Linked DNA regions of Homo sapiens. The protein of the gene in region 1 purifies or fractionates together with the protein of each later gene. This does not show direct contact. Each region holds a gene or a part of one and is shown in the gene's direction. Other genes may lie near its edges.

Region 1 (8,241 bases):
TGCTATGTTGCCCAGGTTGGTTTCAAACTCCTGACCTCAAGCAATCCACACATCTCAGCCTCGTAATGTGCTTGGATTACAGGCATAAGCCAATATGCCCAGCCAACAGTCAACTGATTTTTGACAAAGGTGCCAAGAACACACAATCAGCAAACAACACTCTCTTCACTCAATGGTGTTGGGACAACTGGATATCCATATACAGAGGAATAAAACTAATACTTCATGCTACATTAAAAAATAAACTACAAATGAATTAAAGACTTAAATATAAGACCTAAAACTATAAAACTACTAGAAGAAACCATAGAAGAAAAGCTCCATGACATTCATCTGGGCAATAATTTTTTGGATACAAATCCAAAAACACAGGCAACAAAAACAAACATTGACAAATGGGATTACACCAAACTAAAAATCTCTTGCACGGCCAAGAACACAAACAACAAAGTGAAGAGACAACCTGTCTGCAAATCATACATCCGATAAGGGGTTAATAAAAAAAAAAAAAAAAAAAAAGAAACTCAACTCAGCAATGAGAAAACAAAGAACTCAATTTAAAAATTGGCAAAGGATCTGAGTAGACATTTCTCCAAAGAAGACATAAAAATATCCAACAGGTATATGAAAAAGTGCCCCAAATCAAAAATCACAGTGAGATATCACCTCACGCCTGTTAGAATGACTGTTATCAAAAACACAAAAGATAACACGTGTTGGTGAGGATGTGGAGAAAAGGAAACCCTTGCACATTGTTGGTGGGAATGTAAATTAGTACAGCCCTTGTGAAAAACAGTATGGAGATTCCTAAAAAAAATTAAAAATTAAAAAACTACTATAGGATCCATTAATCCAGTACTAAGTACGTATCCAAAATAAAGGAAATCAGTATGTCAAACAGATATCTGCACCCTGATGCTTATTACAATATTATTCACACTAGCCAAGATGAAATGAACCTAAGTGTTCATCAACAGATGAATGGATAAAGAAAATGCATATGTACACAATGGAGTGTTATTCAGCCTTGAAAAAGAAAGAAATCCTGTCACTAGCAACAACATGAATAAATGTGGAAGACATTATATTAAGTGAAATAAGCCAGGAACAGAAACACAAATATACCACTTAATTTCACTTATACACGGGATCTAAGAAAGTTGAACTCATAGAAGTAGAGAATATGGTGGTTACCAGAGACTTGGGAGAGGGGTTGGGGAAACAGACAAACAAACTACCTATTTCAAAATTTTTTTATAGCAGCCTGAGCAGACTAAGACAGACCCTTACCCAATACCATGTATAAAAATTAACTCAAGCCGGGCGCGGTGGCTCACGCCTGTAATCCCAGCACTTTGGGAGGCCGAGGCGGGCGGATCACGAGGTCAGGAGATCGAGACCACGGTGAAACCCCGTCTCTACTAAAAATACAAAAAATTAGCCGGGCGCAGTGGCGGGCGCCTGTAGTCCCAGCTACTCGGGAGGCTGAGGCAGGAGAATGGCCTGAACCCGGAAGGCGGAGCTTGCAGTGAGCGGAGATCGCGCCACAGCACTCCCGCCTGGGCGACAGAACGAGACTCCGTCTCAAAAAAAAAAAAAAAAAATTAACTCAAAACAGATCAAAGACCTAAATGTAAGATCCAAAACTATAAAACTCTAAGAAGTAAACATAGGTGAAAAGCTTCACAGCATTGGATTTGGCAATGATTTATTGGATAAGACATCAAAAGCACAGGCCACAGAAGAAAAGGTGAAGTGGATCAGGCCTATAATCCCAGTACTTTGGGAAACAGAAGTGGGAGGATTGCTTGAGGCCGGGGGTTCAAGATTACAGTGAGCTATGATTGCGCCACTGCACTTCAGTCTGGGTAACAGAGTGAGACCCTGTCTCTTAAAAAAAAGACAGACTGGATATCATAAAATTTTTTAAATTTGTGCATCAAAAGACACTATTAAGAGAGTAAAAAGGCAACCCACAGAATGGGAGAAAATATTTGCAAGTATTATATCTAATAAGAGATTAATATCCAGAATATTGTCATTCACCACTTAATGATGGGGATACATTCTGAGAAATACGTCATTTGGTGATTTTGCCATTGTGAGAACAACATAGAGTGTATTCTGTGTGATAAAATACACATAACATTAAATTTACCATCTTGATCATTTTTTTTTTTTTTTTTTTTTTTTTTTTTTTTGAGACGGAGTCTCGCTCTGTAGCCCAGGCTGGAGTGCAGTGGCGGGATCTCGGCTCACTGCAAGCTCCGCCTCCCGGGTTCACGCCATTCTCCTGCCTCAGCCTCCCAAGTAGCTGGGACTACAGGCGCCCGCCACTACGCCCGGCTAATTTTTTGTATTTTTAGTAGAGACGGGGTTTCACCGTTTTAGCCGGGATGGTCTCGATCTCCTGACCTCGTGATCCGCCCGCCTCGGCCTCCCAAAGTGCTGGGATTACAGGCGTGAGCCACCGCGCCCGGCCGATCATTTTTAAGTGTACAGTTCAGTGGTATTAAACACATTCATAATATTGTGCAACCATCACCACCATCTATCTCCATAATTTTTTATTTGTCCTTTTGTAACTGGCTTACTTAGCATAATGTCCTCAAGAATCATCCATGTCGTAGCCTTTGTCAGAATTCCAGAATTACATTACAGTACTTGCCTAGTAAGGGAGTTGCTGCTGCTGACCCCAGAACCAGCTACATCTGCTGAGGCTAGGCAACTTTTGCTGCCAAAACAAACCCCAGAACATACTGCCTTTGCTGCTACCCATGCCAGCAAAAATGGACACCAGCGACACAAGTCACCCAACAGAGCCCTTTGTTGGTGTATATAATTAGTGGAACCTTAGTAGTGTATAAAATTAGTCACATACCCCATTCCAGTAGCAGGGGAGGCTGGGATTTCTTTTCCCCCTCAAATTCTACCTTGGAAAGGTAGGATTCATGATGTGGGGGATTATAAAAATGTGGATGGTGTTCAAAATATTTTGGACAGTCGTAAATGACAGATAGATATTCATTATATAGTGCCTGTCTCTTTGCATTCACTTTCTACATCCCTCCAAAGTCACCAAAATTCTGGCTAATTTGTGTCATAAATAGCTCAGGCATCTATTCACTTTCCCTATCCTCCCGGGCATTTCTTTAGTGTAAGTCACTCCATGGGGATGGGAAATAAAAGGTAGATAAGGGAAGGAGAAGAGAGATGCCTTGAAATTTGTGGGTTCTCTATAAATACTGTCAAATTAAAATTTAATTGTACGTAGTGCCAAAGGCAGAAAGAAATCTTAATTTTCTCCAAGGTAACAATATACTGTTCTTTTTAACTGAAACAAAACTCCCTGGATCTCTCTCTCTCTCTCTCTCTTTTTTTTTTTTTTTCTTCAGACAAGGAAGGCTCTGTTGCCCAGGCTGGAGTGCAGTGGCACCATCACAGCTTGACCTCCCTGGCTCAAGGTATCCTCCCACCTCAGTCTCCCAAGTAGCTGAGACTACATATACACACCACTACACCTGGCTAGTTTTATTTTATTTTATTTATTTTTATTTTTATGGAGACAGGGCCACCATGCCTGGCTACTTTAATTTTTTTTTTTTTTTTTTTTTTTTGGTAGATACAGGGTCTCACTCTGTTGCTCAGGCTGGTCTCCAGCTCCTGGGCTCAAGTGATCCTACCATCTTGGCCTCTCAAAGTGCTGGGATTACAGGTGTGAGATCTTGATTTTTACTTATGAACACATGCAAGCACTCTGTATGTGTTGGGTGGTGTACACTCTCGGGACAGGGAAGTTAGAGTTTCAATTGTGGCCATGGCTTCTTTACTCTTTCTGTGATCTTGAGCAGTCCCACAACTCTTAGAACTTAATTCATTATAGAAGTGTTGGAGAATTTCTGTGAGATAATCAGGCATAAATTTTTAAAGCATTAATATTGCTGAGATGTCCAAATGACTACATAAATTATGATCCACCTACACGCTAAACTGCTATGTAGCCATTAAAAAGAATGACGCTGCTCTAAATATACTAATATGAAACAGTTTCCAAGATATCCTGAGTGAAGAAAAGACAGTATAGAACAATGTATATAGTATGCTACCATTTTTGTATGTGTGCATGCCTTCACATATGTGTGCTTTTAAGGGATATAGGCATATTTAAGCTCGTAAATTCATAGACCATCTTTGTAAAGGTACACAAAGAACTGGCAATAGTGGTTGCCTTCAGAGAAGAGAACTTGAAGAGAACCTCCCTACTGGAGGCAGGGATGGTGGAAGGGGTGGGGGATGGAGAGAGTGGAGATTGAGCTTTTGAATTCTGTTCCATGTGCATATATTATAAATTCAAAAAAAGATATAGTTTATTTTTTAAGAACCTGGAATTAAGTCCTATCTATGAAAGCTGAAGAGATCAAAGTGAGAGGTAATTTAATTTGAAGCCCAGGTACAGCAGAAGTTTGGGGCTTCTGTGTTACTCATGCTTATCCACACCTTTATTTTTTCTTTTTCTAAAGCATCTGGGTCTTTAGTTCAAATATTTGCAGATCCATGGTTTACTGGGTAGAATTTTTGTTGTGGCATACATCAACATATTCCAAGTTTCTCTGCTTGGATGGAATAGATGCATGAAATTCTGTGAAATGATTAAGCTGTGAAAAGTAGAAGGACTTTGAATAGGCATTATTTTTCAAGATCTTAGAAATAGTTATGCCTGATAGTTTTATAATGTCTGTAGCGTATTTTGCAGTCCACAGAACGCACTCACATACATTATCAGCTGATCCGTCGCAAAGAAGCCTCATGTGATTCTTTCTATTCTCAGCTTTGTCCATGAACTAAAATTAGAACTAGGCTGACATTACATTTCACTTGGTTACAGCTGACTGGGGATTTTAATCATTTGGAGCCACACTGAAAAAAAAATTTCCCCCTGCAATCTACTCTTAACTGATAGTCGCTAACTTTGGTTATGTGTGGTAAGTATTTGACAATGGTAAGTATTTTTCAAAAACATTTTTCCTTTCTTCTTCACATGTAAATAGATTGCTGCTGATACCTATACTGTGTCTGTATTGGTTGGAATGTCCAAACAAACTGGAATAGAATTTAAAAGTTTTTTTGCGGGGTGTTCATGGTCACTCATATAATTGTGCTCCTCTGGAAGATAGATTTCCCCAGAAGTAAGAAACAATTCTTCTGCAATTCTTTTCTATGCTTACCTCACTTGTCACATTATGTGCTTTTTTTCTATTATGGTACTAATCAGAGTAGAGAGCAGTCCTGTGCTGGAGGAAGAAATATATCATTATTGACTTGTGTTTCCCTAGGGGAAGTTGGTTGTTATAGGAAAACTGATGGATGAGCAACATTTAATGGCAAATGAGGAAATGAATTAGCAAATGGATGAATTGTTTTACATGTCTTCTAAAATACATGTATACATGTAGATACTTGGGAATTCAAAAATATTTTTATTCGAGTATTTAGCAAAAACTTCAAACTTTCTTAAATTAGAGACAATAAATTGTAAATTGGTTGCAATATGCTCAGGAAGTTGGATTACCAGTGTATGTATCCCAAGGTTTCTTCACAGCAAAGAGATCTCGCATTCTGTTCCTGAGTAAATTCGGCATGCCTTGCTTAGAGATTCTCTCAACAATTTCCTGCCTATGCCAATTATTTATCAATCTTGAAATTTTAAACTTTTTTCTGTAATATAGTTCTCCTCTTTCTTTGACTGTCTCACACACATATATACTGCATAATATTAGTTTAAAAAATCAATAATTTAGAAGAGGTTAATAATGAAAAGCAATATTATCTATCCGATTCCTCTCTATCACCAGTCCTGCTCCCTAGAAGTAATCATTTTAACCATTTTGGAATTTAGTTTTCAGTGGTTATCTCCATATTTCTCTCTTTTTTTTCTTTTTCAAAGACAATTGCATGCTATTTTTAATCAACTTTAAACATCTGTGGAGCTTCATTATGAGAGGTGGGGATTAAGTTCCCTTACACTGCCATAGAGTTATATCCCTATTTTTAGCTTCTCTCTTGATTACCTTAATAACTTTAAGCAAATACTTTAATCTTTATTTCTTGTTCCATAAGGTACAGACAGTATCTGTTGATTCCCCACTTCGAAGATGTGGATATCGGTGTTCTTATCATTTACTTCTTTTCCTTATTTCCTTCTTCCATATTCTGTTAAAAGTACTGTCACTTTTATGTTTTCAAGATATATGGCATTTATATTCTGTTCTGTAACCCTCAATAAGTCTTCCTTACTTTTTTATAGATTGATTTATTTCAAAAGTTTAAGACCAATACATAGACTTTACTATGTAATTTCTGTTTTCTGCAGAGCCAACATTTCCTTCTCAGTATCAATGTCATATTCATTGTACTAAAGAAGAATGTTAAAATAGATTCTCCTTTCCTGCACTTCAATAAATGCTAAAAAATCATGCCACATTTTGTTGGCTCTATATATGGACTGTGGCTTTCTTGTACAGTGTCTTCCTCAACACAATTTCTGACTGCCTTTCTTTTTGCTTATTGGGAGAAGAAATTTCATCTTTTCACCATATCTCCAATGTCACACAGTTTTTTCCCCCTTAATTCTAGCTATTTTTATAATTCAATGGATGAATACTGCCATTCCTTTTTTTTGTTTGTTTTTGAGACAGAGTTTCATTCTTGTTGTCTGGTCTGTAGTGCAATGGTGCAATCTCAGCTCACTGCAACCTCTGCCTCCCGGGTTCAAGTGATTCTCCTGCCTCAGCCTCCCAAGTAGCTGGGATTACAGGCATGTGCCACCACGCCTGGCTAATTTTATGTTTTTTTAGTAGAGACGGGGTTTCACCATGTTGGTCAGGCTGGTCTTGAACTCCTGACCTCAAGCGATCCACCAGCCTCCCAAACTGCTGGGATTACAGGCGTGAGCCACCATGTCCAGCTATTGCTTTTAAAACATTGTTTTACTTTATTTTTAATTTTTTTACTATCATGTAAAACATTGCTGGGAACAGTCTTGTTCATGTTTCCTGGTGGAGACACACCCTTCCTCTAGGTACATACCTTTGAATGGAATTGCTGGATCATAAGCTGTGCTTATCTTCAATATTAGTACATAAGTATTTCAAAATAGTTAATACTAATTTACAATTTCACCAATATACCAGGAGTCCATGAGGATTTCTGTAACTCAAATTCTCACCAACACTTGGTATAATCAGCCTTTTGAATTTTAGCCATTCTGACAGATGTTCATTGGTATCTTATTATGTTTTTATTAAGGTGGAGCACAACTTCATTTGTTTTTGGTCATTTGGATTTTTTTTTCTCCACAGGGAAAGTTCTACCATTTGGATTTTATTTTTTGAAAATTTCCTGTTCAATTGTATTTTCTGTTGCCTTTTTCAGCTGATTTTAAGGAGTTCGTTATATATTCTAGATGTAATCCATTGGTGGTTATATATATTGCCAATATCTTCCCCCACTAATGTACATGGTATTCCTTTTATTTTCTAAGTGATGTCTTTCAATAGGTTCTTAATTGTAATGTAGTCCACTTTATCAATCTGTGTTAGGCTGTTCTTGCATTGCTATAAAGAAATAACTGGCCAGGCACAGCAGCTCATGTTTGTGATCCTAGCACTTCTGGAGGCCAATGCAGGAGGATCACTTGAGCCCAGGAGTTCAAGACCAGCCTGGAGAATGTGGAGACATCCTGTCACTACCAAAAAAAAAAAAAAAAAACTGGCACACTGGTTCTTGCTGTAGTCCCAGCTATTCTGAAGGCTGAGGCAGAGGGGGCCCAGGAGATCAAGGCTACTATAAGCCATGATTGTGCCACTACACTCCAGCCTTGGTGGCAGAGTAAGCCTGTCTCAAAAAAACAAAAAACAAACAAACAAAAAACCACAAAACAAAGAAATACCTGAAACTGGGTAAATTACAAAGAAAAGAGGTTTAACTGGCTCACGGTTCTGCAGGCTTTACAGGAAGCATGGTGCTGGCATCTGCTTCTCAGGGAGCTTTCAATCATGGTGGAAGGCAAAGGGGGAAGCCTGCGTCCCGCAAGGCCAGAACAGGAGCAAAAGAGGGAGCAGGGGGAGGTGCCACAAACTTAAAGAACCAGATCTCCCAAGAACTCACTGTTTCAAGGACAGCACCACGCCATGAGGGATCCTCCTCCATGATCCAATCACCTCCTACCTAGCCAACACCTCC
Region 2 (8,033 bases), on another chromosome or scaffold:
CCCCGTCTCTAAAAAAAAATTAAAATAGGATCATGCTGTCTTATAATTTGCTTTCTTCATTCAAAAGTATCCTATGAGCATCTTTTCATGTCAATAAGTATACTTTGATCACATGATAGGTATCTGAGAAAAACAGTGTCCAGTTACCAAGGCAAAGTGCCACTTTGATTGTCAGGGCTCCTGTGTGGTTACAGTAAGGGCAGGTGAAGTCAGAGACCTAGATGACTCATCCATTGTGTGGCACGAGACCTTACAGAGCCAAGAGTGCTGCTGGCAGTTAGGGTAGAACCAGCTTCTGGAGCTGTTCTGTAATTCCTTCTTTTCCAGCAAGAAAACTTTTTAAGCTTCTTATATCTCTGATGCATACATTCTTCCCCCAATGGATCATTTTGTAAGCTAAAATTTAAACACTAGAATCAAGCAGTTCTATAATTTCTTTTCAAGCCTTATTTCTACTTGATGAAGTGGCTTTCAAGAGTATATTCAGAAGAGTAATAGGGTGAGAGACTTAATTCCCAAAATAGCTGCTAATCCTGTTTAATTCCTAGGTTGTTTGTCCTTTCTTTCTTAGTTGAAAGACTGGTGAGTCACAGACTACAGGAGAGAAGGTATTGGAGTTTGCAGTTTGTTGGGAAGGTGGTGCTGTTCAATTTATTTAGGAGTACAGTCCTTTCAAAGTACGGGACATTTAATTTAATTTAATTTTTCTTTTTTTTTTTGAGACAGAGTCTCACTCTGTCACCCGGACTGGAGTGCAGTGGCGCGATTTGGGCTCACTGCAACCTCCGCCTCCCAGGTTCAAGCCATTTTTCTGCCTCAGCCTCCTGAGTAGCTGGGACTACAGGCGCGTGCCACCACGCCCAGCTATTTTTTGTATTTTTAGTAGAGACGTGGTTTCACGGTGTTGGCCGGGCTGGCCACGAACTCCTGACCTCAGGTGATCCACCCGCCTCGGCCTCCCAAAGTGCTGGGATTACAGGCATGAGCCACTGCGCCCAGCCGGGACATTTAATTTTCAACAAGCGTGTTTCCTCTATTATGGAACAACAGTGACAATTTCCAGGTTGTTTTCAGTCTGTCTTACATGTATAAATTAATTCCATTTTTGGCCCTAGTGAAAGTGAACTCTCTTAGATATGTAAATGTGTGTCCTTTGATCATCTGAGTGATAAGTAGTGGTATTTGCATTTGAAGCCTGCATATTTTACAACCAGAGGATCTGTAAAACAGTGAATTTCTTGATAACTGAGAATTTTTTTTTTTTTTTTGGTTGGGGGATGGCGTCTCACTTTGTCACCCAGGCTGGAGTGTAGTGGCGCAGTCTTGGCTCACTGCAACCTCCACTTCCCAGGTTCAAGCGATTCTCCTGCCTCAGCCTCCAGAGTAGCTGGGACTATGGGTGTGCACCACTGCACCCAGTTAATTTTTGTATTTTTTTTAGAGACAGGGTTTCTCCATGTTGGTCTGGCTGGTCTCAAACTCCTGACCTTGTGATCCGCCGGCCTCGGCCTCCCAAAGTGCTGGGATTACAGGCGTGAGCCACCGTGCCTGGCCCTGATAAGTGAGAATTTATACACAGATAAACTTGTAGAGAAGAGCAGGGAAAAAAAAAAGATTAAATTCTTATGAAAAATAAAATTTGACTGCTCATATGCATGTAAATTATGTCAGATATAACTAAATATTTATGCAAATACTTGGAAAGTCTGGGGACTTCTCCAGGGTTCTACAAATTGTTTCAATCCTTGCTGCCACTATCCGTAATTAATGGTATAGTTTCAGCTATCCTGCAACTATCCTGCATCTTTGTCTTATTTAAAAGAAGAAAAAAAAACCCAGCAGAATTTACCATGTTATTTTATGGCAGGTAATGATGAACTTTGCTGATGTGTAGTTACAGTGTTTCAAGCACTTGTATTTTGCTTTTTCTTTCTTGTTTTTTTCCCCATTAATCTTTGGGTAAAAATCTCTTGTTTCGCATGTAACTATCATTAGAGCTGGGTTTGCCTTTCTTCTCATTTTGTCCTTATAAGGCCATCCTGTTTTATCACTTCCTGCTTCAGCTCCTGAGTTTTTCTCTCTTCCCCTCTCCCTCTCCCTCTGCCGGGTGGATGCTTTCTCCATGTGGCAAGGCTGTAACTGTTCACAGCTGTCTGAAACAGCAGTGGACCAGGAGCAGCTTGGAGTTTTAACTTTCATTTTACAAAGAACAACATGTTTGAATGTTTCAGCAGGCAAGTTATAACTGGCATCTACTTCTTGTTCTTCTAGAACACCGAAAATCTCTCCCAGCACTTTAGAAAGGGGACCCTGACTGTGTTAAAGAAGAAGTGGGAGAACCCAGGGCTGGGAGCAGAGTCTCACACAGACTCTCTACGGAACAGCAGCACTGAGATTAGGCACAGAGCAGACCATCCTCCTGCTGAAGTGACAAGCCACGCTGCTTCTGGAGCCAAAGCTGACCAAGAAGAACAAATCCACCCCAGATCTAGACTCAGGTCACCTCCTGAAGCCCTCGTTCAGGGTCGATATCCCCACATCAAGGACGGTGAGGATCTTAAAGACCACTCAACAGAAAGTAAAAAAATGGAAAATTGTCTAGGAGAATCCAGGCATGAAGTAGAAAAATCAGAAATCAGTGAAAACACAGATGCTTCGGGCAAAATAGAGAAATATAATGTTCCGCTGAACAGGCTTAAGATGATGTTTGAGAAAGGTGAACCAACTCAAACTAAGGTAAGAATTGGGCGGGTTTGAAACTTGAGAAAGCCAATTCAAGCACTAAACAAAGCTGTTTTTCCAATCTAGCTATTTTGAGTAGAGGCGAATATGTGGTCAGTATGTCTTTTGATTCCAGTTAGATAAGTTAATAGTCTCAAATGCATTATTTACATAGATGCTAAGATTTGTGAGTCTCTGACACAATTTCATGTTAAATCAGGTTCACACTGGGATTCAAATTGGTATCTAGAAATGAAGAGAGTTTAATACCGATTGGATTATGTGTTTTTGTACACTTGCCCTTTTAAATTGTCTTCCTGTGTTCTTTATCATTTGTAGCTTTGGGGGTGGAATTACTGCTGAATAGCTCTCTGCTTGGACACAGCTGCAGACTGAGTGTTAAGGCCGGAGTTTAACATTAAGACTGAGGCTTACTTGTCTCTGCTAGCTGAATCCCTTCTCTTCTTCTCAACTTCCTCATCTGTGCCTTCCAACAAATGTTTTCTATCAGCTAAAATCCTCTCTCAGGCAAAATCAATGAAGATAGCCAGACTAGCTATAGCTTTCGGGAGTTTTGACTTGCAAATGCACAGGGTTGCGTTTTCCTACAACTGCTAATGAAATTTGATCCTTCATGTGGATTGCAGACCTCGTCCCCAGAGGGAATTACTTAACTAGAAAATGAGTTACATATGCTGGTGATTTATAACACAATCCAGAGGCCACAGAGCTGGTAAATTTTTCCAGTTTTCTCATACTTTCCTATATATCTGGCTTTGTACATGGGGATGGTTCGTTACAACAGTCGTTATAATGAAATAAACAGACCTGATGGGGAGCAAAACCATCTGTTACTCTAGATTCCACCTAGATGGGAAAGCTGGATTTTTTTTAAGCTAAATATTTGGCCCAAGTCCCTATGTTTGGAAAGTAATATAATAATATTAAGCATTCTTTCTGAGATAAAAAATAACTCATCCTGTAGTCTTCAGTTATATTAGATGTGATATTGTCAATCCCTTCCCATGACTTGCAGTGCCAGTCACTTTTCTACTTAGAATTAGAAAAGTTCTTGAATGTTTGCGGGTCATGTTTGAAGTTGTGCGAGTTTTTGACGATGTGTAAAGCTACAACACTTCTCTGTGCATGAGCTTTAGCTCTACTTTAACAGTGAAACCAGTTGGCAAGAGATGTAACCACAAAGCAGTTTTATAACGTTTCTTAACTCTCTTCCCTCTCAAGTTTTTAGACCTTTAGTCCTGCCAACTCCTTCTTTCCCCTTTATGGTTTTAATTTAAAAATTTGTTTTATTTAAATGGGAAGAAGAATTTTAAGTGGAAGGAAAAAATGTCAGAAATCCTAAATAGAGAGGAAGGGGTTTTGTTGTGACTCAAAGCACCATTGTAAGTCTCCTCCTCCCAGACCCTGCTAGGAACAGGACAGCTGATGTCATGCCAGTACACACAATGTAGATTCAGTGCAAAAGGCTGCTGCATGTTGAAACTGGCCAAAGGTAGGAAATGACTGGGACTGTAGCAGACAAAAATGCTGATTATGTGTAAGGATATGGTGAGACACTTTTTCTCATAAATATCTAGTGAGATATGGGTCAGAACAAGCCTATCTCCCTAAGGCTGCTTGGAGAGGAGAAAAACTTTCCATATAAGATCTTACTAGTCCGGGCGTGGTGGCTCAAGCCTGTAATCCCAGCATTTTGGGAGGCAGAGGTTGGGGGATCACTTGTGGCCAGGAGTTCGAGACCAGCCTGGCCAACATGGTGAAACCCCGTCTCCACTAAAAATACAAAAATTAGCCAGGCATGGTGGCGTTGCTGGTAGTCACAGCTACTTGGGAGGCTGAGGCAGGAGAATCACTTGAACCTGGGAGGTGGAGGATGCAGTGAGCCGAGATCATGCCACTGCACTCCAGCCTGGGCAACAGAGTGAGACTCTGTCTCAAAAAATATATAAAAATAAAAATAAAGATCCTACTAGATGGCTGATAGCACTGGGCCACCAGATTGATTGCTAAAGGTATAGGAAGATGGAAGAGGCTGGGCACGGTGGCTTACATCTGTAATGAGAATTTAGGGAGGCCCAAGGCAGGAGGATTGCTTGTGCCCAGGAGTTTGAGACCAGCCTGGGCAACATAGCCAGACCTCGTCTCTACTAAAAATTTAAAAATTAGCCAGGTGTGGTAGTATGCATTGATAGTCCCAGCTACTTAGGAGGCTGAGGCAGAAGATTGCTTGAGCATGAGAGTTTGAGGTTGCAGTGAGCCATGATCGCCACTGCACTCCAGCCTGGGCAACACAGTAAGATCCCTGTCCCTTAAAAACAAGAAGATGGAAGAGACATAAGATTCACCTGGGCTTCTAGGTTTCATTGCTTTTTGTGTGTGCCATTTTTAATTTCCTGATTTGTCACTTAATGGACTGCTTAGGGAGTGGAAAACACAGCCACCCTTGGTTTTATTGCTGTTTGTAAATAAGCATCATTGTCCATACTGAAAACAGTCTAGATTATATTTATTTATTTATTTATTTATTTTTGAGACAGAATCTCTCACTGTTACTCAGGCTGGAGTGTATTGGTGCGATCTCGGCTCACTGCAACCTCCATCTCCCAGGTTCAAGTAATTCTCCTGCCTCAGCCTCCCAAATAGCTGGGATTATAGGCGCCCGCCACCACGCCCAGCTAATTTTTGTATGTTTAGTAGAGACGGAGTTTCATCATATTGGTCAGGCTGGTCTTGAACTCCTGACCTCAGGTGATCTGCCTGCCTCAAGCCTCCCAAAGAGCTGGGATTACAGGCATGAGCCACCACGCCCAGTCTCAGTCTAGATTATTTTTAACAGTTCTGTCAGGTATTCTATAGTCTGAGCTCAACCTACCTGTATAGTCTCACAGCCAATCTTATACTCAAACCTTGGAATACTCATCCCCCAACTGCTACTTTTTGAATCTTTTATTCTTAATATTTCACGTTTTAACTTCAGTGTGTTTATACTTTTTGAAATGAGACCAGAACATAGTAGACTTTATAGAGAAGACCAGTTTTACCTAGATTCCAAAGGAAGAATTAAACTGCTGTTATTGTTTGAAATGCGTTTTTTTTTTGTTTTTGTTTTTTTTTTTTTTATGGAGATAGGGTCTTAACTCTGTTGCCCAGGCTGGAGGAGTACAGTGGTACAGTTATGGCTCACTGCAGCCTTGACCCCTCTGCCTCAGCCTCCCAAATAGCTGGGGCCACAGGTGTGTACCACCACTCTCAGCTAATTTTTAAAATTTTTTATGGAGACAGCGTTTCGCTATGTTGCCCAGACTGTTCTTAAACTCCTGGGCTCAAGTGATCCTCCTGCCTTGGCCTCCCAAGCTGGTGAAATTACAGGCATGAGCCACCACACCCAGCCTGAAATTCTTAAAGGATGAGAATGTCAATGACAGAGCACCTTGGCATCATTGTGACTAACCTGGGAGACAGGGAAGAAGCACGCCATGGGAAGTGTTTACATTTGGGTACAGCTGTGCTAAGTACTGTGGAGCCCATAGCCTTGAGGTAGACGGCTACTTTGCCTTTTTTCTTGAACTGTCTTGCAGAATGTGGATTTGGGGTAAGTGGTCTTGAAGCACTCATTTAGTCACCCTCAAATTAAGATTTTTACTTCATCTTTCTTGGGCCTGTACCTCCAAGATGACAAAGAAAAGAAGAAACAATGGTCACACCAAAGAGGGCCGCAACCAGGTGTACGCTATTCACTGCAGCCAATTTGCTGCATAAACTGTGCCCATTGTGTGCCCAATGACAAGGCTTATTAAGAAATTCATCATAGGCCGGGCGCGGTGGCTCACGCCTGTAATCCCAGCACTTTGGGAGGCTGAGGCGGGCGGATCACGAAGTCAGGAGATTGAGACCATCCTGGCTAACACGGTGAAACCCTGTCTCTACTAAAAACACAAAAAAATTAGTTGGGCGTGGTGGCGGGCGCCTGTAGTCCCAGCTACTCGGGAGGCTGAGGCAGGAGAATGGCGTGAACCCGGGAGGCAGAGCTTGCAGTGAGCCGAGATCACGCCACTGCACTCCAGCCTGGGCAAGAGTGAGACTCCGTCTCAAAAAAAAAAAAAAAAAAAGAAAAGAAATTCATCACTTGAAATGCTTGAAATGTAGAGGCTGCGGCAGTCAGCGATATTTCTGAAGTGAGCGTCCTAGATGCCTGTGTACTTCCCAGGCTGGATGTGAAGCTACATTACTGTGTGAGTTGTGCCATTCACAGCACGGTAGTCAGGAATCAAGGTCATGAAGCCCACAAGGATCGAACACCTTCCCCCCACTGTAGACCTGCGGGTGCTGCCCCACGACCGCCAGAAATCAAGGTCATGAAGCCCGCAAGGACCGAACACCTCCACCCCACTGTAGACCTGCGGTGCTGCCCCATGACTGCCACCGAAGCCCATATAAGGAGCAGAGTTCTTAAGGACTGAAGAAAAACTAGCCTCTGGAGAAAAATAAAAAAATTGCAATTGTACTTAAAAAAAAAAAAAAGATTTTACTTCAAAGGCCAGGCTTGAAGTTCTGAACACTTTGAAGTCTCCAATTATGAGGGATCCAGTCTAAGCCTCTGGCTTTTGCTATTTAGCAATAGGTGTTCTATGATGGGCTGATTTGGAAGGAGGGAGTCAGCCACTCTTGAGCCACTGCAGTGAAGTCACTTGATCTCAGTCTGGAGAGAAACACTTTAATAGCTAAACATTCTAGCTTTGATTTTTCTGAAGGGAATACACCTGTTTTCAATTCTGGGATTTTTGGGGTGCTTGCTTGACTGTATATGAACTTGTGATCCAAGGAAAAAATAGGAGAAAGAACAATGTTGGCTTTTTAAGTCAGGATAGTTTTATGTTTGCTACTAGATAAGGCAAAAATAAAAACTTATTTTTATAAATTCAAGAAGAAAAGTAAGGATGTTTTTATACCCTAGTGGTCAATAACTTAGTTCATAGTATTTATTTAATAAAAGGAAGGTGGCATTGGTGGTATAGTGGTAAGCATAGCTGCCTTCCAAATAATGAAAATTGATTAAAGCCTATTTCTCAGTTATTCTCTACATTTGATGAATAGATAGGTTATTTAGGTCAGGTGGTTTAGCTGAATATGATGGTTTTATTTATTTATTTTTGAAACAGAGTCTCATTCTATTGCCCAGGATGGGGTGCAGTGGCACAATCTTGGCTCACTGCAACCTCTGTCTCCTAGGTTCAAGCAATTCTCCTGCCTTAGCCCCCGAGTAGCTGGGATTACAGGTGTCCGCTGCCATT
Region 3 (8,041 bases), on another chromosome or scaffold:
AATCCCAACACTTTGGGAGGCCGAACTAGGAGGATCACTTGAGACCAGGAGTTCGAGACCAGACTGGGCAACATAGGGAGAACCCGTCTCTACAAAAAAACAAAAAAAATTAGCTGGGCATGGTGGCGTGCGCTGGGACTGTGGTCCCAGCTACTCAGGAGGCTGAGGTGGGAGGATTACTTGGCCTAGGGAGGTTGAGGCTACATTGAGCCATGATTATGCCACTGCATTCCAGCCTGGATGACAGAGCAAGACCCCGTCTTAAAAAAAAAGAAAAAGAAAAAAAATGATCCTGGCCACATCATTTTCATCATTATCATGGTGACTGGGCATGTTTATTGAGCTCTTACTATGGGCCAGGCACTTGTGAAGTACTTATGGCTCATCATTTCACTCAACACTCGAGAATGTCCCAGAGTCCCAGGTCACACAGGCAATCAGCAGCCAAGCCAGCCCCCAGGGTCCTTCAAAGCTGTGCTCTGAACCTCCATGGTGGGGTATCCTGCCTTCCATGGTCCTGCTCCCAAGAAAAACAATTTGTCCTATGGCCAGAGGAAGCTTGAAGCCCACTTACATAGTTAATACAAACCCCTTCACCTTTGCTGCTCTGGCATTCGACTTCCTTGGCCTGGACCCACTGATGTGATGCTCTCACTCCCTCCTCTGGCTCAATTAAACATTTGTCTCAGGCAGAAATCATGACATCCTCCTATCCAAGTCCTCATGCCCCCACTTGCTGGGATGACCTGAGTTGGGATTTGAGCACCACCCTAGCTAACTCCACGCTAACTCTGTCCTTCTGTAGAGGGTTGACTGCTCCTTCCTTCCTGAGACAATTTAACTGCATGGATGAGTCCTGCAGATGTTCAGGGCTATCATAGTAGACTCATGGGCAGCCGGTGAACAGGCCACTGCATGTACTGACGACGGGCATAGCTCACCCTGAAAAGATGTCTCATGGTCCCCAACCAGGTTCTCCAACCCCGGGGCCCACGGTGCACCCAGAGGGATTCTACCCATTGTGGGGCCAGGGCAGGCCTCAGGCTCTGAGCCCCACTAGCGGAAGGGCAGCTTCTCTGCCAGCAGCTTCTCTGCCAGCAGCTCCTCTGCCAGCAGCACCCCATCTTGGAGACCCAGAGGGTGAAGAGGGCTAAGAAGCTAGCCTGGGAGGATTAGATCCCAGGTTACTAATTCAGGATCCTTGTTCATCATCGGATCTCCAGCATCAGCATGATGCCAGGTACAAGTGAAGGGGCACTAAGCCTTTAAGACTGTTTCCCTGCACAGAACCAGAAGGGAGTGGGCTCAATTATGGGAGGTGTAGCCATGTTGCCATAGGGCTTACACCTGGAAAGAAGCAGTGAGCTCCAAGGATCTCATGACTAGGGTGCTGTTACATGCTCAGGGGTCCAGGATCAGGACTCCTCTGGGCAATTTCTACTTGCAAATAGAAGCAACTAGGTAAGTAAGGACTTGCCACCTTGAGGCAGAGAAAACAGGTTTGATCATGCCTTTATCTGCCCCCAAAGGAGAGAGGCTCCTCGCTTGCACGTTTGCTTTCTGCCATTCTCACCGCCTGGCTAACAGAGAGCCACACATGCATCCAAGCTTCCTGACTCAGCATGTTAATAGACTGCTATCTCCATGCTGTCCCTACGGTGGGAGAGGTATTTCGACATGGCAGATGCAGAAAAGGCAGACTCCCTAACCAGGGTTGCAAGCTGGCAGCAAATGAACCTGGACTTCGGCCTGGGCCCCGTGTGCCTTCTCCAACAAGTGATACTGTGTTTATCTTTTTATTTTTATTTATTTATTTATTTATTTATTTATTTATTTATTTATTTTTTGAGATGGAGTCTCGCTCTGTCACCCAGGCTGGAGTGAGTGGCGTGATCTCGGCTCACTGCAACCTCCGCCTCCCGGGTTCAAGTGATTCTCCTGCCTCAGCCTCCCGGGTAGCTGGGACTACAGGCGTGCATCACCTCACCTGGCTAACTGTGTATTTTTAGTAGAGACGGGGTTTCATCATCTTGGCCAGGCTGGTCTTGAACTCCTGACCTCAGGTGATCTGCCCGCCTTGGCCTCCCAAGGTCCTGGGACTACAGGTGTGCACCATCATGCCAAGCTAACTTTTTATTTTTTAAATTTTTAGTGGAAATGAGTTTTTGCTATGTTGCCCAAGCTGGTAATCCCACATTTAACCTAAATATCTAAAAAACTTATTTTTCCTTTTCTTTATTGGCTTCTGTCATTAGACTCAGTGCATATGAACAGAGCTTCTGAGTGTAGACAGCCTGAAAAGGGTAAAATAAAAGGAGCCAATTCGTACTTAAGCAGAAAAAAGACATAATAGAGAAAAAAATAAAATCATAAGAAAAAGGGAAAAAATAGCCAATTGATTGATAATAGAATGGGAAAGTTTCTAAGTATGGGAGGTGGGGGTAGGGGTGGAGCAGGGCGCTGGTGTTACAGCTCACTAGGAGATGAGGAGAGCTGGGTTTGCTTTGAGGCAATTCAGGTAGCTCTTCCTGGTTGGTGGAGACAGGGAAGGAACAGGCAGTCAAGGTTCTGCTTTTGTTCTGTCTCAGCCAGTGCCCATTCCAAGGCTCCTATTCCTCGAAAAAACTGACCTGCTGGGCACTCACTGCAAAGTATCCGCTATGAGTGGGGCCCCTACTAGCAACATACTTCTCCAGGCTGGCCTAGTTTACAGAACCCTCAATCCCAGCTAACAGGGCTTTCTTGAGTCAGGGCCTCTCTGCTACCACACCTCCTCCCACAACATTGTGTGATCCTTTCTGTTTAGGCTCCTTCCGTTTGGTACTGATTGCTGCTTTTATTAGCAAACATTACACCAAAATGAAAATAAATACAAGTGTCAGTGCGGGAAGGGAGTAAAGTGGGTTCTGTGTCTTCAGTACTGGCAAAAGATTTGCTGTGAGACCTGGTGGTCAACCCAGTACCTGATCTTCTCTGTGCACCTGTGCAATTATTGTAAGGATGTTTATCTGTCTGTCTTCTTCCCCCTCACAGGGCGGGCAGCTGTGGTCTTCCTTATACACCCTACTGACACAGGGCTAGGGCCATTCAGGAAGCAGTCATTTCAGGGATAGGCCCACTGCCGCGCCTGCCTGCTCATGTCCACAAGCAGCTGCCCAGCTGATCAATCACCACAATTTGGGGTTAGGAGTTTGGTCCTGGAAGGCAGGTAGCAACAACTACTACCTAGCCAAAGAATATTCTAAAGAGCTGTCCTGTCATGTTCAATGTCTAGGTCCACAATCCCGCAAGCTTAGCGAAGTAATGCTCTGTCATTCTTACCCCCATTTACAGATGGAGAAATGGGCTGGGAGATGACAGTATGGAGGCACCAGGATTTTTGTCTCGGCTCAATTTCTGCATCTCTAAATGGAAATAATTCTACTAACTCTGAGGGTTGTTGGGGGGATTTAATGAATATATGTGTTTACTTGTTTATCTCCTGTTTTCTGTTCTAGACTGTAAACCCCAATGGGCAGCGACTTTGGCTTGTTCACTGCTCTATTGTCAGAGCCTAGAACAAGTGCCTGGTACAAAGTAGGTGTTCAATAAATATCTATGCCTAAATGGAAGAGACAGGAGAGAAGTCTAGGCCAGAGCCTGCCCCTTCTATAACCTTAGTTCCCCAGATTTGCCTTCCACATCAGGCAGCCACTGGTTGATGGAAGCATCGTCGGGCTGGGGCTGGGGCTGGGGTAACCTACTTCTGGCCTTAGGACAAGGTCGGCAAAAATCTCAGCAGTGAGGAGGCCAGAAAAGTCTCCAAGGGGCAGGCTGCAATGCCAGCCTAAGCCCTCAGGTTTCCTTTTTCTTTTTCTACATCAGGAAAAGCACTTTTCTCGCCCTGCCTGCAGAGCGGGCCACCCCTAGCTGCAGGTGAGGGACGGGAGAGGAGCCTCCCACGTGCGGCCGTGCGAGGCCGAGGAACAGGAACGGCGTAGCTAGGAGACCAGGTCCCGGAGAAGGAGAGCTGGCCCCACTGGCAGAGAAAGGCGGGGAAGGGCGCGGAGGCGGAGCACTGGGCGGGTACCCGCTGGCGGCTCTCGCGCGGCGGCGCTGCTCCACCTTAAGCGACTGTACCCCCTTAAGGGCGGGCGCTCAAGCAGCGAGCCCCGGGGGCGGGGCCTCCAATGCAAATGAGGGGCGTGGGCAGGCGGGGCGGGGCGGGCGGGGCGCTGACCTGACGTCAGGCTCGCGGCCCGGGCAGTTGGCTCGGCGGCAGCGGAGCGGCCGGAGCTGCGGTGCGGACCGGGGCCGCGCGGCGTGGCGCGGGGAGCGGCGGCGGCGGCAGAGCCAGAGCAACATGGCGCCGGTGGGCGGGGGCGGGCGCCCGGTCGGCGGACCGGCCCGCGGGCGCCTCCTCCTGGCGGCGCCGGTGCTGCTGGTGCTGCTGTGGGCGCTGGGGGCCCGGGGCCAGGGCAGCCCCCAGCAGGGCACGATCGTGGGCATGAGGCTGGCGAGCTGCAACAAGTCGTGTGGGACGAACCCGGATGGCATCATCTTCGTGTCCGAGGGCAGCACCGTGAACCTGAGGCTGTACGGCTACAGCCTGGGCAACATCTCCAGCAACCTGATCTCCTTCACCGAGGTGGACGATGCCGAGACCCTCCACAAGTCCACCAGCTGCCTCGAGCTCACCAAGGACCTGGTCGTCCAGCAGCTGGTCAACGTGAGCCGCGGGAACACGTCCGGCGTGCTGGTGGTGCTCACCAAGTTCCTCCGGAGGAGCGAGAGCATGAAGCTGTATGCACTGTGCACCCGGGCCCAGCCCGACGGGCCCTGGCTGAAGTGGACGGACAAGGACTCACTGCTCTTCATGGTGGAGGAGCCTGGGAGGTTCCTGCCTCTCTGGCTGCACATTCTCCTAATTACGGTGCTGCTGGTGCTGTCGGGCATATTTTCTGGCCTCAACCTCGGGCTTATGGCCCTGGACCCCATGGAGCTGCGCATCGTGCAGAACTGTGGCACCGAGAAGGAGAGGCGCTATGCCCGCAAGATTGAGCCCATCCGGCGCAAGGGCAACTACCTTCTCTGCTCGTTGCTCCTAGGGAACGTGCTGGTCAACACCTCCCTCACAATCCTTCTAGACAACCTCATCGGGTCCGGCCTCATGGCGGTGGCCTCCTCCACCATTGGCATTGTCATCTTTGGGGAGATCCTACCTCAGGCCCTGTGCTCCCGACATGGGCTGGCTGTGGGTGCCAACACCATCCTTCTCACCAAATTCTTTATGCTACTCACCTTCCCCCTCAGTTTTCCCATTAGCAAGCTCCTGGACTTTTTTCTGGGCCAGGAGATTCGCACTGTTTACAACCGGGAGAAGCTGATGGAGATGTTGAAGGTGACGGAGCCCTATAATGACCTCGTGAAAGAGGAGCTCAATATGATCCAGGGTGCCCTGGAACTACGGACCAAAACTGTAGAGGATATCATGACCCAGCTCCAGGACTGCTTCATGATCCGCAGCGATGCCATCCTGGACTTCAACACCATGTCGGAGATAATGGAAAGCGGCTATACTCGCATCCCGGTGTTCGAAGACGAGCAGTCCAATATTGTAGATATTCTCTACGTCAAAGACTTGGCCTTTGTGGACCCCGATGACTGCACCCCCCTCAAGACTATCACTCGCTTCTATAACCACCCGGTGCACTTTGTCTTCCATGACACCAAGTTGGATGCCATGCTGGAGGAGTTCAAGAAGGGTAAGGCCAGATGTAGTTCCCCTGGTTCAATTTCCTCTTGACGCCTCTTTTCCCCTGGCGTGTTTTGTGTCTGCTGGCTTTAGTGTTCTGTTTGTGTGACTCTGTGTCCCTTTGCCTATCGCTTCCTATGCTTCTGAGGTGAACGATTTTGGAGCGGTAGACCCATTCTCAAGTGTCTGCCGTCTGCCAGGTAGTGTGCTGTGTGCTCCTGATGAATCAAAGCTGAATAAGACATACTCGCTCCCTTGGAGGGCTGGAGCAAGACCTCAGGGAGCTATTGAAGCAAGACAGAGTAAGACAGATGCCTGAAAAGAGGCCAGGGCGATGGAGATTTAGAGTATGGGGTGGAGTCAGGAAGGGGCTGGGAAATTGGGGAATCCACAGGGGAAGGAGCATTTGAGGAGAATCTTAAAAGGTAGAGAGGCTTGCTGCTTGAGGCAGAGGGAACCCCGCAAGCAGAGAACCGGAGTGGAGAAGCAAAAGTGTGCTTGTGGCCCAGCAGGTGGTCCTGTTTGGTGGGTATAGTGGCTCTGATGCTTAGTGGTCAATGGCTGGAGTAGTTTGGGGCCCGGTGGTGGACGCTAAGTTTGCTCCCAGCTTGGGAGCTACAGGTTTTTGAGCAGGGGAGTCATGTTACTGGAGGTGCTAGCCCACAGAAGCAGAATTGGGAGGTCTCTAATTGGCTCGCTTCTCAGAACAATGCCAAGTAGCGCTTTCGACTATTCAGCAGAAGCAAGCAGATTAAGTTTTGGTAATTGTGGCGCCAGCGTAAGCTTCCCTCCAGTGGTCTGCTGGAAATCTTCAGCTGCCTTGCACTGCCTTGTGTTTTTTTCTCACCTGGGTTCTTGGCCATTTCGCAGGTAGTTAGAGAGGCATTTGGAGGGTTTACTCATCAGCCTCAAAGCTCAAGGCACACACTCCTTTTCTTCCAGCAAAATTTTCCTCCCATCTCTGCCATTCAGAAACCCTCAAAGTGGCAGTAAACAAGCCAATTATGGAGTGGAACCCTCCCAGGCTGAAGGAAGTGAGGAGGCAGAAAGGGAAGCTCTTTTTTAAAGGAATGGGGGTGAGGGGCTCATCCTAAACTTGGGGACTTTGCTTTCTAAACATGCTCCCAGCCTTCATTCCCATAGGAGAGCTCCTACTGGCTGAGGCTGCTCAGGCCGACCTAGGGCTTGGAGGGACTTCGGAATCCTAGCAGGGAGTGAGCTGGCAGGTGTTTCTGTAACGGAGAGTGGAGGACAGCTTTGGAGTGGGATAGGGAGGAGCTGGCTTTGCCAGGTTTGGTCTGAAAAGATGCTGGGGTCAGGGCCAGGGTGGTGGGTTGGTACCCTCCTAAGTTCAACAGACTGAATCTTAGTATCGGAGCTGAGGACCACTTGAGTAAAGTAAGCCAGAGTCTGGGAGAGCCCCAGGGAAGGTGGCCTCCCTGCAGAGACTGGAGAGACAGACCCCTAGTGGTGAAGGCAGAGGCTGCGGTGGGGTGGGGGTGGGGGCGGCTTTGGGAGTGCAGACCCAGGAATCAGGTTTTCCCAGGTACCCGAGCCTGGGACAGAAAAGCAGTGAGGATCTGTGCCCCACCCCCACCCTAAGCCTTGGGACCTGAAGACTTCTCCTATTGCTTAGTTGGGAACCTGATTAGGACCCTCCAGGGCAACTTCCTCCTCACTGCCTCTGTGGTGTTTGGGACTATGGTTTGTGACACACCCAGTAGCACCTTCCCATCAGTTCATTTGGAATCTGGATCCAACCAGTATGGATTGGTCTGACCAGTCTCCCAGTCTTGATCAGCAGGGCTGAGCTCTCTTGGGTTGGAGCCTCCTGGGTCTTGAGAGGGCTGTCTTTGGGCTCTGTCTTGTCAAGTGCCCTTTCATTAAGTTGGGAAAACAGAGCTAGCATCTCTTAGGCCGTAGCAGAGCTCTGCTGAGCCAGAGTCCCCAGGTTCAGTTTACTCCGGGAAACTCTGCTTAACAGAGGCCAGTAGCCTGAGGCCAAGCCCTGGAGCAGTGCTGGTAAACCCAGGGAACTGCACACAGGCTGCCCAGCACAGCAGGCCGCCCTGGAGATGGTGATAGTCCCCCCTCTCTACCCACCCCCGACAAATGAACAGGCCCTGCGGCTTTATGCCATCACTTACTTCCCCATTCTCAGAGGTCTTGGAAAACCAGTTTTAACTCATTGCACACCGGGTTCCCTGCAGCGTGGCCTCTTCCAGACCTTCCAATCTGGCGTCCACCTTCTTAGTCTGAGATTACCCAGGACACAGCACACACCTAGTGTACATCTGCAATTTAAGA

The links. Proteins that work in one complex are often made in the same cells at the same time.
Region 2: the proteins of LRRC39 (region 1) and LIMA1 purify together in Homo sapiens (affinity purification with mass spectrometry; 3 studies listed by BioGRID and IntAct, with this or other methods). This does not show direct contact.
Region 3: the proteins of LRRC39 (region 1) and CNNM4 purify together in Homo sapiens (affinity purification with mass spectrometry; 3 studies listed by BioGRID and IntAct, with this or other methods). This does not show direct contact.

The regions. Positions count from the first base shown.
Region 1 is NC_000001.11:100,174,876-100,183,116, reverse strand, and holds the start of LRRC39 (leucine-rich repeat-containing protein 39), read left to right. Parts: upstream 1-4,860; 5' UTR 4,861-4,982; exon of another isoform or gene 4,983-4,999; intron 5,000-8,241. UniProt on the Homo sapiens protein: Component of the sarcomeric M-band which plays a role in myocyte response to biomechanical stress. May regulate expression of other M-band proteins via an SRF-dependent pathway. Important for normal contractile function in heart.
Region 2 is NC_000012.12:50,216,724-50,224,756, reverse strand, and holds part of LIMA1 (LIM domain and actin-binding protein 1), read left to right. Parts: intron 1-2,098; exon of another isoform or gene 2,099-2,122; coding exon of another isoform or gene 2,123-2,234; exon of another isoform or gene 2,235-2,271; coding exon 2,272-2,736; intron 2,737-8,033. UniProt on the Homo sapiens protein: Actin-binding protein involved in actin cytoskeleton regulation and dynamics. Increases the number and size of actin stress fibers and inhibits membrane ruffling. Inhibits actin filament depolymerization.
Region 3 is NC_000002.12:96,756,658-96,764,698, forward strand, and holds the start of CNNM4 (metal transporter CNNM4 precursor), read left to right. Parts: upstream 1-4,244; 5' UTR 4,245-4,342; coding exon 4,343-5,744; intron 5,745-8,041. UniProt on the Homo sapiens protein: Probable metal transporter. The interaction with the metal ion chaperone COX11 suggests that it may play a role in sensory neuron functions. May play a role in biomineralization and retinal function.